Homo sapiens: one gene and its partner. The protein of the gene in region 1 interacts with the protein of each later gene in a pairwise test. Each region holds a gene or a part of one and is shown in the gene's direction. Other genes may lie near its edges. The genes, in order: MAP2K3 and PDGFRA.

The links.
Region 2: the proteins of MAP2K3 (region 1) and PDGFRA come close enough for resonance energy transfer, tested with the Homo sapiens proteins (2 studies listed by BioGRID).

Annotation. Positions count from the first base shown.
Region 1 is NC_000017.11:21,301,563-21,305,477, forward strand, and holds part of MAP2K3 (dual specificity mitogen-activated protein kinase kinase 3), read left to right. Parts: intron 1-580; coding exon 581-697; intron 698-1,620; coding exon 1,621-1,672; intron 1,673-2,863; coding exon 2,864-2,991; intron 2,992-3,488; coding exon 3,489-3,566; intron 3,567-3,915. UniProt on the Homo sapiens protein: Dual specificity kinase. Is activated by cytokines and environmental stress in vivo. Catalyzes the concomitant phosphorylation of a threonine and a tyrosine residue in the MAP kinase p38.
Region 2 is NC_000004.12:54,295,293-54,299,060, forward strand, and holds the end of PDGFRA (platelet-derived growth factor receptor alpha isoform 1 precursor), read left to right. Parts: 3' UTR 1-2,953; downstream 2,954-3,768. UniProt on the Homo sapiens protein: Tyrosine-protein kinase that acts as a cell-surface receptor for PDGFA, PDGFB and PDGFC and plays an essential role in the regulation of embryonic development, cell proliferation, survival and chemotaxis.

The DNA of each region.
Region 1 (3,915 bases):
GCCATCGGGCAAGGTCAGGGCTGCTTCACCTGTCCTCACTCGTCACTCATGAAGAGCTCAGCATCCTCTGTGCCAGCCCCTAGCCGATGGGGCCCCTGCAGCCTGCGGGTGCCCCCTGCGCATCTCCCAACCTTCCTGTCAGGAGGGTCCTCAGGAGTTCACTGGGGAAGAGGGAGCAGGTCCTTGCAGGCAGGGAGCCATCTGCCAGGGTCAGCTGGCATGAGGGTGTCTGTCGGTCAGCAGGGCCGGCTGTTGCCATGGAGCTGGTGCAGGTGCATCCTGAAGCTCTGGTGGAGGGACCCAGCGAGGCTGTGTGCTAATCCTCTTCCTCCCTGGAGACACCTGGAATTAGGGATCAGATAGAGGAGGCTGGCGCCCGAACCTGGCAGTGCAGGCAGAGTTGGAGGGTGGGGGAAGCGGGCAAGTGGGTGGTGGGTGGGAGCCCGGTGAACTGTGGCTGAGTGGGTGGGCACACGTCGGAGAGGGGGCTGGGGCTGGGGCTGGTGCTGGGGCAGGCAGTGCAGGTGGTGCAGACACGGGCAGCCCGGCAGCCTGGCTGAGCTCTGGGTGTCACCCACAGGGAGACGTGTGGATCTGCATGGAGCTCATGGACACATCCTTGGACAAGTTCTACCGGAAGGTGCTGGATAAAAACATGACAATTCCAGAGGACATCCTTGGGGAGATTGCTGTGTCTGTGAGTGGCCTGGGTGGGCTGGCGGGGGGTCCTAGGTGCATAGGCAGAGGCCCAGCCCTGCCAGCAGGCATGGAGCCTGCCTATTGATGGTGTCTTGGGCAGAGCTGGGCATCAATGTGCCCCCTGAACCTGGGCAGCTGCCCTGCATAGGCCCTTCTCCTCCACCCCAGACCAGAGCCTTTGTGCTTAGGAGACCTCCGCTCCTGGGGCTCCTGGAGCCCCACAGATTTGGCAGATCCAGGTGTCTGAGCCATTGATTCCAACTCTTGAGTTCCAGATCATTTTTTAAAAAAGGAATTTAGTATTTACAACAGCGTCATACTAAAAATGCCCCGGGGCAGCTCACAGAGGTACAAGCTAAGTTGGGGGAAAGGTTAGCATCCAAAATGTGTGCTTTTTGAGTCTAAAAAGTCCTTGAGGGAGGGCAGCAACACTGGGCTTGAGCATTCCAGTAGCCAAAGGAAAAAGGAAAATAGAACCAGTGAGACTGGTTCAATCCTCACTGCATCTGGAAACATTTACAATATACCCCTGCCTCAGGCTCCCCACCCAGCCTTCCCAAGGGAAATGGCTCCAAGCTGCTAGAATACTGGCTCTGCCACGGGAGGGGAGATGGGACAGGGAGGCTGCCAAGAGCTGGGTTTTACCCAAGAAGAGTGTGGCAGGCAGTGATGATGCCTCCCTGGGAGGTGAGCCCGGGAGGATGAGAGGAGGCAGGAGGCCGAGTGTGTCTGCACCAGGATTGTTAGGATGCTGGGGCAAATGCCAGGACAGGGCAGGAGGCTGGGATGAGAGGGTGCGTAGCCTGTGCAGCGGGAGCGGGAGACAGGTGGACATGGATGGGGTCTTACTGCTCTGTCGTTTTTGACGTGACCAGGAATAACAGAGTCCTGTCTCTTCCCTCCTCCCCACCCCACCGCCAGATCGTGCGGGCCCTGGAGCATCTGCACAGCAAGCTGTCGGTGATCCACAGAGGTCAGTGCCCGGCAGCCACCCAGGCACGGTGTAGCCAGTGGGAGGGATCCCAGGCCAAGGCGGGTGGACGTCTCCCTATGAGCAACTGTGGCTCCGAGAGGTGATAGGTTGTGACGTGCCCGATGGGGTTCCAGCCGCTTTCCACCTGCAGCCCTGCAGCTGCCTCCCCTCAGGTTTGCTGGTGCTCGAAGCAAGGACTGGCTTGACTTCTGTCCTGAGAAAGGTGGACTGGGTTCTGTTCTGATGTATAGTTTACAAATCGTGAAACTCCAGCATAGAGTGCATATAATCATGTTCACACCCATGCAACCACCTCCCTCCAAGATGCAGGACAATTCTCTCACCCCCTCCCAGAATGTTCTCTTGGGCTCCTTCCCTGCCATCCCCCATGTGCCTAAGGCACCCACAAGTCTGGTTTTCCCACAGTGGGTTGGTTTCGCCCTTTCTGGAACATCAGCCTCGCTTGATGTTTCTGGACCCACCTGGGTCTGGTGTGGTCTCAGTTTGTTCCTTTTTGCTGCTGAGCACAAGTCTATTTTTCCAGATTTACTGCTTTTCAAAAAATGAATTAGGCTTAGTTCCCATTGTCCACTGGGTGCCCATCCCAGCCCCCCAGGTCACTGTGGTTGGCGGTTGGCACGGAACCTTCTGGTCCTTTTTATGTGCATTTCCATCTTTACACACATCCCCATGGAGGGCACGGGGATGTGAGTGTCCTATGCGCATTTGTATGGAGAATCCCTGCTGGGCTGCTCTCCCATGCTGGTCTGTGGGGACTCCATGTCCAAACACGCAGATCCTGCCTCCCAGGCTTTAATTGATCCTGCTGCCCTCTGGGAGCACCCACACAAGCCAGGCTCTCACTGGACCTCATGTCTGGAGGGCGGATGCAGGCACGGTGCTCCCAGCAAAGCACCTGGAGTCCTGCCTTCCTTGCAGTGGCCGGGCCGGGCTGGGCACGTCCTGGCTGTTCCCTGAGGACCAAGTATGACTCTCAGCTGGCCCGGCACCTCTTGCAGCCTCAGTTCCCTGGTCTGACCCTTGGGACCCTGGTGCAACCTGCCCACTGGGGCATGGGAGGGGGCACAGGAGGGGTCTTGGGCGAGGGAGGGGGGCACAGCTATGCAGAGCATGGCACCTGCCTCCAGTCGTGCTCCACAGACGTGGCTGAGGCATGTCCCTCCCTGGCAGATGTGAAGCCCTCCAATGTCCTTATCAACAAGGAGGGCCATGTGAAGATGTGTGACTTTGGCATCAGTGGCTACTTGGTGGACTCTGTGGCCAAGACGATGGATGCCGGCTGCAAGCCCTACATGGCCGTGAGTGGTCCCCAAGCCCCCCAGGCTCAGGAGAGGATGGGGCGGGGAGAAATCTGCCCAGGCTGGCCACCCCGGCCATACCCTCTGTCCGTAGGGGCAGAGCCTCCCCACACTGCGTTTCCTGCTGTAGTGGGGCCACCTGTGTCTTGCTGCCCAGGGGCAGCCCTTCTGTACCCCGTTGTTAACTGACCCCCACAGTGCCCCAGTTGGGTGATAAGCTCATGGACCACCTCTGCGGAGGACACTGGTGGGCTGTGCAGGTCCCGCCCCGCCCTCATTGTCAGGAGGGCCTTAGGGGCCTGCTCCCGGGTAGGGTCAGACCGATGCAAGGGTTGGGCCTTCTAAGCATGACCCAGGCCCTCCTAGCCTCAGTTTCCTCCCCCGTCACATGGGCAGGTGGGCTAAGCTGAGCGCTCAGTTTGGGGATTGGGAGGCAAGGCCTAGCCATGGGGGCTTACCTGGGGCGGGTGTTCACGCCTCACTCTTCCCTCCTGCAGCCTGAGAGGATCAACCCAGAGCTGAACCAGAAGGGCTACAATGTCAAGTCCGACGTCTGGAGCCTGGGCATCACCATGGTACTGTGGGGGGCCAGGGCCTGCCCTTGGTGGTCAGGTGGGGTGGGTGGAGCCGTGCCTGGGGCCCTGAGCTTTTGGGGGACTCATCAAATAGTTTAGGTTCTGGAAAGAAGTATTGGCTTCAAAATCTGAGAAGAAAATGTGCCATCAGAAATTACCATCTATTTAAGGGAACCTCCTAGGGTCAGGGTCACTCATCGTGAAGTCCTGGGTGCTTTGTGATATGGTGGCCACAGGGCTTTCTCTGGAGTTCTTGGTGCTTGTTGAGAAATCACAGCCAATCCCAAATTACGTAAGTTCCTGGTATGTAAATCATGCAAAAGCAAGATGGTAAAGATCTTTTCAAAAA
Region 2 (3,768 bases), on another chromosome or scaffold:
CTTCCACTTCTGGGGCCACCTCTGGATCCCGTTCAGAAAACCACTTTATTGCAATGCAGAGGTTGAGAGGAGGACTTGGTTGATGTTTAAAGAGAAGTTCCCAGCCAAGGGCCTCGGGGAGCGTTCTAAATATGAATGAATGGGATATTTTGAAATGAACTTTGTCAGTGTTGCCTCTTGCAATGCCTCAGTAGCATCTCAGTGGTGTGTGAAGTTTGGAGATAGATGGATAAGGGAATAATAGGCCACAGAAGGTGAACTTTGTGCTTCAAGGACATTGGTGAGAGTCCAACAGACACAATTTATACTGCGACAGAACTTCAGCATTGTAATTATGTAAATAACTCTAACCAAGGCTGTGTTTAGATTGTATTAACTATCTTCTTTGGACTTCTGAAGAGACCACTCAATCCATCCATGTACTTCCCTCTTGAAACCTGATGTCAGCTGCTGTTGAACTTTTTAAAGAAGTGCATGAAAAACCATTTTTGAACCTTAAAAGGTACTGGTACTATAGCATTTTGCTATCTTTTTTAGTGTTAAAGAGATAAAGAATAATAATTAACCAACCTTGTTTAATAGATTTGGGTCATTTAGAAGCCTGACAACTCATTTTCATATTGTAATCTATGTTTATAATACTACTACTGTTATCAGTAATGCTAAATGTGTAATAATGTAACATGATTTCCCTCCAGAGAAAGCACAATTTAAAACAATCCTTACTAAGTAGGTGATGAGTTTGACAGTTTTTGACATTTATATTAAATAACATGTTTCTCTATAAAGTATGGTAATAGCTTTAGTGAATTAAATTTAGTTGAGCATAGAGAACAAAGTAAAAGTAGTGTTGTCCAGGAAGTCAGAATTTTTAACTGTACTGAATAGGTTCCCCAATCCATCGTATTAAAAAACAATTAACTGCCCTCTGAAATAATGGGATTAGAAACAAACAAAACTCTTAAGTCCTAAAAGTTCTCAATGTAGAGGCATAAACCTGTGCTGAACATAACTTCTCATGTATATTACCCAATGGAAAATATAATGATCAGCAAAAAGACTGGATTTGCAGAAGTTTTTTTTTTTTTTTTCTTCATGCCTGATGAAAGCTTTGGCGACCCCAATATATGTATTTTTTGAATCTATGAACCTGAAAAGGGTCAGAAGGATGCCCAGACATCAGCCTCCTTCTTTCACCCCTTACCCCAAAGAGAAAGAGTTTGAAACTCGAGACCATAAAGATATTCTTTAGTGGAGGCTGGATGTGCATTAGCCTGGATCCTCAGTTCTCAAATGTGTGTGGCAGCCAGGATGACTAGATCCTGGGTTTCCATCCTTGAGATTCTGAAGTATGAAGTCTGAGGGAAACCAGAGTCTGTATTTTTCTAAACTCCCTGGCTGTTCTGATCGGCCAGTTTTCGGAAACACTGACTTAGGTTTCAGGAAGTTGCCATGGGAAACAAATAATTTGAACTTTGGAACAGGGTTGGCATTCAACCACGCAGGAAGCCTACTATTTAAATCCTTGGCTTCAGGTTAGTGACATTTAATGCCATCTAGCTAGCAATTGCGACCTTAATTTAACTTTCCAGTCTTAGCTGAGGCTGAGAAAGCTAAAGTTTGGTTTTGACAGGTTTTCCAAAAGTAAAGATGCTACTTCCCACTGTATGGGGGAGATTGAACTTTCCCCGTCTCCCGTCTTCTGCCTCCCACTCCATACCCCGCCAAGGAAAGGCATGTACAAAAATTATGCAATTCAGTGTTCCAAGTCTCTGTGTAACCAGCTCAGTGTTTTGGTGGAAAAAACATTTTAAGTTTTACTGATAATTTGAGGTTAGATGGGAGGATGAATTGTCACATCTATCCACACTGTCAAACAGGTTGGTGTGGGTTCATTGGCATTCTTTGCAATACTGCTTAATTGCTGATACCATATGAATGAAACATGGGCTGTGATTACTGCAATCACTGTGCTATCGGCAGATGATGCTTTGGAAGATGCAGAAGCAATAATAAAGTACTTGACTACCTACTGGTGTAATCTCAATGCAAGCCCCAACTTTCTTATCCAACTTTTTCATAGTAAGTGCGAAGACTGAGCCAGATTGGCCAATTAAAAACGAAAACCTGACTAGGTTCTGTAGAGCCAATTAGACTTGAAATACGTTTGTGTTTCTAGAATCACAGCTCAAGCATTCTGTTTATCGCTCACTCTCCCTTGTACAGCCTTATTTTGTTGGTGCTTTGCATTTTGATATTGCTGTGAGCCTTGCATGACATCATGAGGCCGGATGAAACTTCTCAGTCCAGCAGTTTCCAGTCCTAACAAATGCTCCCACCTGAATTTGTATATGACTGCATTTGTGTGTGTGTGTGTGTTTTCAGCAAATTCCAGATTTGTTTCCTTTTGGCCTCCTGCAAAGTCTCCAGAAGAAAATTTGCCAATCTTTCCTACTTTCTATTTTTATGATGACAATCAAAGCCGGCCTGAGAAACACTATTTGTGACTTTTTAAACGATTAGTGATGTCCTTAAAATGTGGTCTGCCAATCTGTACAAAATGGTCCTATTTTTGTGAAGAGGGACATAAGATAAAATGATGTTATACATCAATATGTATATATGTATTTCTATATAGACTTGGAGAATACTGCCAAAACATTTATGACAAGCTGTATCACTGCCTTCGTTTATATTTTTTTAACTGTGATAATCCCCACAGGCACATTAACTGTTGCACTTTTGAATGTCCAAAATTTATATTTTAGAAATAATAAAAAGAAAGATACTTACATGTTCCCAAAACAATGGTGTGGTGAATGTGTGAGAAAAACTAACTTGATAGGGTCTACCAATACAAAATGTATTACGAATGCCCCTGTTCATGTTTTTGTTTTAAAACGTGTAAATGAAGATCTTTATATTTCAATAAATGATATATAATTTAAAGTTATACTAAGGTTTCAGCATTTTTGTTTTTAGTTTAATCATAAGAATTAAAGCAATCCTGTTCTATTTACTTTCTTAGCAACATTTGTAGGACTCTATATTAGGCCTTTTTTTTTTTTTTCCTGAGACGGAGTTTTGCTCTTGTCATCCAGGCTGGAGTGCAGTGGCGTGATCTCAGTTCACTGCAACTTCTGCCTCCCGAGTTCAAGCAATTCTCCTGCCTCAGCCTCCCAAGTAGCTGGGATTATAGGCGCCTGCCACCATGCCTGGCTAATTTTTGTATTTTTAGTAGAGATGGGGGTTTCATCATGTTGGCCGGGCTGGTCTCGAACTCCTGACCTTAGATGATCTGCCTGCCTCGGCCTCCCAAAGTGCTGGGATTACAGGTGTGAACCACCACGCCTGGCCTTTATTAGGCTTTTGATGAACCAATAGAATATCTAAGGTTTAAGACATTATATGAGCTAGATTGTTCCACGACACAGTATTTGACTTAAAGATGATTGGCACTTGGCTCATCTTTGGTCTCATCATTTTTTTGATTGTTCATCTTTATCCTGTGGTGTTTTCTTCCCCTGCATAAGGAATACAGGACTGCAGTAACTCTGTACAACATTCAACTGTCGTAAAAGTGTAGGAAGTAAAATGTTAAATTATTTTTTTCACCGTGTCTTCTTCCCTGTCCCTGTCCTGTTTCCAAGAGGCAGAGCTGCACCACTTGGTGTGTCTTTTAAACTTCCAGTTCCCTTTGTATGCATCTGTGTATATATATTCCCATACACACATCTCTACGTTTGCTTCATATCTACCTAAATGGGT